Regions from separate parts of the Homo sapiens genome. Here region 2 is linked to region 1. Evidence: fine-mapped expression QTL. A gene starts in region 1. The other region holds a variant in brackets. All regions are shown on one strand. Distances are between the middles of the regions.

Region 1 (2,912 bases):
TGCCAGCACTCTGTTGGGTCCTGAGCAAAATCAAAGTCCTGTCGTCCTTCTGGGTCCAGTCTCTCCATTTGCAAAGGAGACAGCTGGATTAGATGGTTTCCCAGGCATCCTCCAGCTCTGACAGTCAATCACCGTACTGTGTTTTTTTTTTCGGTGGCTACACATGCCTGGCACTTTTCTCTCCCCTCAGAGGGAATCTGATACCAATCTGCTCAAGTAAATTGATGTTCCCATCCAGCCTGACTCATATGGTAGGAACAACAGGTTCATATGCCAATTGTAAAAGAGAAGGCAAAGGGGGCCCAGAATGAGAAAAAGAAAAGGTCTTACAAACCAAAACGGCAGTTTTCAGGACTAAAAATATAGAAACAAATGTGATTATTCTGCTGAAAAAGCCCTTCACGTGGGGCAATCTCTAGCTTACTAATAATGCTTATATTAACAGCATTATCTACTGAGGCTTTTGTGCCAGACACTGTGTGCTAAACCCTTTACAATTAATCCTCCCAGCAACCCATGAGCTTATTACCTCCTTTTCACAGATGAGGAATCAATCTGGCTGAAGGTCACAAAGCCAGTAAGTGGCAGAACTGTGATCTGAACCAGAGCTAACTGACTCCAGAGTTCTGGCTCCTCAAATGACTTTCCCCTCTGTTCTTCACTGTAGTCCTAAGAGCGAGGCAGGACAGGGGTTATCACTTTTTGTTTAAAGATGAAAAAACCGTCTGAGAGGCTTGAGATTTGCATAAAATACACAGTGGGTGCCCAGCCCCATATTTGCCCCTTGAGATTTGCATAAAATACACAGTGGGTGCCCAGCCCCATATTTGCCCCTGCGTTCCTAGGTGAAGGCTCTTCCCATCCCAAGAGTCAGCTTCTTCTTCTTCGACTTTACTTACACACTCGAAAAATCTCAGGGCTGGAGGCACCGCGGAGATACATGCTCCGCGTCCGGTAGTTTTACGGGAGGGTAAACCAAGGCATAGCTCTCCGTCGGCGCGCCTGAGCCTCCGGATGCCGGGGGACCGCGGAGCCGCGGGCGGCCTGAGGGTACGCCTCATGGTCCTGCCAGACCCCTGATGCCCGAAGCCCGACCAGACGCTCAGCCTCGGCCAGGACTGAGCGGCGCCTCCTGGGTCGGTCGCCTGGGGAAGCGCCCCGGGTCCCCTCCCCCGGCCGCCCAAGTTCGCCCGCAGCCTCTGCGCACCGGCCGCTTACCTCACAGGGCGCTCGCCCACCGCGGAGTCCGGGCCGCGGCCGCCGGTGCCCTGGAAGCCACCCGCCGCCCCCGCTGGAGCCGCAGCAGCCGGTAGGATTGCGGCGTGCGGCCAGCCCCGCCCGGGGGCGGACAGCTGCCTGGGGATCGTGCGGAGCCGCCGCCGTCATGTGACGCGCAAGGCGGCGAAGGATGCCGGGAGCAGCTGGCTGGCCGGGGCTGGGCTTCCCGACCACCGCGCATAAAAGCTGTATCTGCAGGAGGGGCACCGGGAGGCGGGAGGAAGGCAGACGAGGAGGGGGCGCGTGGGGCTTCGGGTACTGCAAAGGCGAGCTTGCGGAAGGACGATTCAGGCTCGTGTTGCGTGGCCCCAGAAGGGGCAGAAATAGAACCAGTGGGTGGAAACTGCAGGGAGGCATGCTAAGGCCAATACAGTGTAAATAAGATTCCTGCGAGCACCAGTTATCTAACAGTATAAGGAGCAGTTTCCTGGGGTGCTAGGCACCCTGTAGATGAGCATGTAGGGTCTGGGTTCATTCACTGAACAAACTGACCATTGGCTACCTGCCAGACAATGTACTAGGAGTACATATTAAATTAGTTGTATGTATGGCGCTTAGCATAATGCCTGCCACAAAGTAAATGCTGTATGTTTGTTGCTGCTGGTGCCGTTACTATTATGGGCACAAAAGTGAACAAAGCAGATATGGTTCCTCTTCTCCTGAAGTTAATTCTGTAGTGGAGAAGGTAGACGGTAATCAAGTGTCATTTAAACCAATATGTGTTTAAAATTGTAGAAAATGCACGGAAGGAGCTGTAATTTAAAAATAGGGGCCAGGTGTTCATGCCTGTAATCCCAGCGCTTTTGCAGGCCGAGGCTGGAGGAAAGATCACTTGAGCTCAGGAGTTCGAGGTTAACAGTGAGCCATGATTGTGCCACTGCACTCCAGCCTGGGTGACAGGGCGAGACTCTTGTTTCAAAAATAAAACTAAATAAATTAGGGACCAAGGAAGGGTAGTCAAGGAAGACCTCTCAGAGTAAGATAAAGAGTTAGCCAAATGGAAGAGGGGCAGGGTAAGCCCTGTGAAAACTCTTGGACCAGGTGGGTTGGGTTGGAGGAGAAAAGATCGCTCTTTGTGGAAATGGAAAACGTCTAGCTTGTCTGAAGCTTTTTAACGGGAAGAACAATATAAGTGAGGTCAGAAAGGTAGGTAGGGGCCAGATCACGCAGCACTTAATAGGCCATGATAAGGATTTTAAAATTGTACGTAACAGGAAGCCATCGAAGGGGTGGAGGATTTGATACCTTTTAAAGCAGTATGTCAGCTACTATGTGAAGACAGGAGTTAAGGGTGGAAGCAGAGATTGGTAGCTTAACCTATTAACTGGGCCCGTGGAGGTGCTATTTATTGAAATGGGAACTATTGTAAGGGGAATATATTTGGAAGCGGGGGGAGATCAAGAACTCCCATTTGAACTTGTTAAATTTGACACTGCCAGTTAGAATGACTATTAACAAAAAGACAAAAAAATAACAAATGCTGGTGAGGACATGGAGAAAAGGGAACTCTCATACACTGAATTATACAGCCAGTATAGAAAAATGCATGGAGGTTTCTCAAAAAAGTAAAACTAGAACTGCCATATGATCCAGCAGTCCCACTGCTGGATATTTATCCAGGAATGGAAATCAGT
Region 2 (2,912 bases), 62 kb before region 1:
AGCCGGTCTTAAACTCCTGGGCTCAAGTGATCCTCCTGCCTCAGCTTCCCAAGTAGCTGGGATTATAGGTGTGTGCCACGGTGCCAGCTTTTCCTCTTTCATTTCTTTTCAGCTCTATGACCACAAATGTTTATAGAAGCTTTATTCATAATCACCAAAAACTAGAAACTACCTAAATACGCTTCAGCTGATGAGTGAATAAACTGTGCAGTACACCCATACAGGGGAAGACTACTCAGCAATTGAAAGGAATGAACGCCTTACATGCAACACCATGAATGAATCTCCAGCATGTTAGGCTAAGTGAAAGAAGCCAGACTCAAAAGACTACATACTGCAGGATTTCTGGGTTTTTTTTGTTTTTACTTTTATTTTTTAATATATATATATATTTTTTCCGAGACGGAGTCTTGCTCTGTTACCCAGGCTGGAGTGCAGTAGTGTGATCTGGGTTCACTGCAACCTCTTCCTCCCAGGTTCGAGTGATCCTCCTGGCTCAGCCTCCCGAGTAGCTGGGACTACAGTTGCGTGCCATGATGCCCAGCTAATTTTTGTATTTTTAGTAGAGATGGGGTTTCACCATGTTGGCCAGGCTGGTCTCGAAATCCCGACCTCAGGTGATCCACCCACCTCGGCCTCCCAAAGTGCTGGGATTACAGGCGTGAGCCACCGCACCCGGCCACGATTTCTTTTATATGACATTTGGGAAAATGCAAATCTATGGGGGATAGAAGTTGGTGGGTTTCCAGTCACCCAAACTCTTGTAGAGAGCATGGAGGGCCAGGGAAAATAAAATGATAGTGAAGCTGTGGTCAGAGTTTTCTGATGCTTGAGTTACAAGGAACCAACTTTACACACTAAGTCTCCATTTGCTTAAGGCAACACATTGTCTTATATGTATTTTTATGATAATGATGTTACAATGAAAGGACTGGAAAGGTGTGGACGGAATCAGAGGTTGGCTACTAGCATGTGAATAAAAAGGCCTAAGCTATGTTGGGAGGACTGTATGTATTTGAGTTTGGCAGCAGGGGAGCACTACTGAAAAGGAGTGATGAAATGAGAGGCTGGAAAAGACAATTAGGACCTCAGGGTACACAGCGGACAATACCAGAGCTGGCATTGGCAAAGTCCGGGCTGTATCCTGTACCCTGGGGTCTCCAAAGGGAAGGAGGAGGTGGATCCCAGGGAGTCCACAATATAATCTGCTGGGATATTGGAAGAAAATACTAGAATTTTGGTTTTTTTTAACTGTATACTTTAAAATTTTCTATTTTGGGGATAGTTTATAATGTAAATAATATACTGCTAGAATACACATATATAAGTTATAAATAGGTATACCGGTGAGGCGCGGTGGCTCACACCTGTAATCTCAATACTTTGGGAGGCCAAGGCGGGTGGATCACCTGAGGTCAGGAGTTCGAGACCAGCCTGGTCAACATGGCGAAACTGTCTCTACTAAAAACACAAAAATCAGCCGGGAGTGGTGGTGGGCGCCTGTAATCCCAGCTGCTCAGGAGGCTGAGGCAGGAGGATCGCTTGAATCTGGGAGGAAGAGGTTGCAGTGAGCC[A/G]AGATCGCACCACTGCACTGCAGCCTGGGCAACAGAGTGAGACTTGGTCTCTAAATAAATAAATAAATAATTAGGTATACCTACATCGGGGGGTTTCTTCAAAGAATATTTTTTCCCGAGAGTGTGTGTAATACAAAAAGTATGGAGATCATTACAACAGAACATGAAGATCCATGAGAGGTTTTAAACCATGGATGTGATGTGACTGACCAGAGCTCTCACTTAGAAAGATTAACCTGGCAGGATGCATGGGACAACCTCCAGAGTGGAGCAGGGGGTGGCCACGGGCAGGGAGACTGGCAGGAGGCTGCTGCAGGGGGACAGGTGACATTGGCGGTGCAGGAGTGATACCAACTACAGCAAATATCAGTATGATTTTACAACCAGAATGTGAAAGCGAAAGCACGGACCAATCAGAACACAGCCCAAGCAGAAGCAACTGGAACAGCTGTGCATTGCAGTAACACAGGCGGTACAGGTTAGGGTGAGCGGTGCTGAGACCTGAATTAGGATGGGGGCAGTTGGGGAAGAGGAGGTGCTGGAAAAAGGAACATTTTAGAAGCAGAATCAACAAGACCTGGTGACTGACTGACTGGACATCTTCGGATTAGGGAGAAAAAGGCAGCAGAAGTTTTGTTGTCAGAACACTGAGTGGATGGTGATGTCGCTGAAATGGAGAACGTGAAAGGACAGACAGGTTTGAGGAAGATGGGTGGCGGCAATTGTGATACATTGAGGCAGAGTGACTAAAGGACAGCAGCAGCATCAACTAACATTTTTACAGCCCCTCAGAGATTCAGCCAGATAGTGTGATCTTATTAAATGGATTTTACTAAGGCTCGAAGATGTGAAGTAAGTTGCCCAAGGTCACACAGCCAGTAACCTGCAGAGCTGAGATCTGAAACCACATACCCCTGACTCTTAAAAAGCTTGTTCCCTCCTGGGGAGTCCTCAGCCCGGGCCTGACATAGAGCCAGGCACAGGCCTTTTTCTGACTGGAGTCGACAGCTGGCAGGGTTGCAGGGAGCCCGGGCAGCCACAATCCCTGGGTGTGGGCCTGGCTTCTTCAGGGAGCTTACTGTGGCTCTAGAGGACTCGTTCAGGCAACCCCAAGCACTCACTTTTTCTTGAAGACCAGGAACTTGTTGTTTTGCATGATGCATTCTCGGTTGTTTGAGATCTGCTGAAAGATGGTCTTACTGGTTTTGCCCTGGAAGATGATGTTTTCCTGCACCAGGGCCTTGGCACGGCCCCGCACGGCGATGCCGTAGGCCCGGAACGAGTGGATCCGGTTCTTTATTACCTGGGAGAGGCAGCCAGAGATTGTCACACCTCAGG

What was found.
Region 2: its variant is fine-mapped to the expression of FBXO10 in whole blood (TOPMed, PIP 0.91).

What each region holds. Positions count from the first base shown.
Region 1 is chr9:37,574,993-37,577,904 of GRCh38, forward strand. It overlaps FBXO10 (F-box protein 10), which reads right to left and starts at 1,388. Exons shown (of 11, transcript NM_012166.3): 1 at 1,219-1,388. RefSeq lists a silencer at 1,042-1,421.
Region 2 is chr9:37,513,209-37,516,120 of GRCh38, forward strand. FBXO10 (F-box protein 10) reads right to left here. Exons shown (of 11, transcript NM_012166.3): 10 at 2,696-2,877. Among named protein-coding and RNA genes, the nearest start is that of POLR1E, 29 kb to the left of the region's middle. RefSeq lists an enhancer at 2,190-2,691. The variant A/G (reference allele first, on the strand shown) is at 1,575.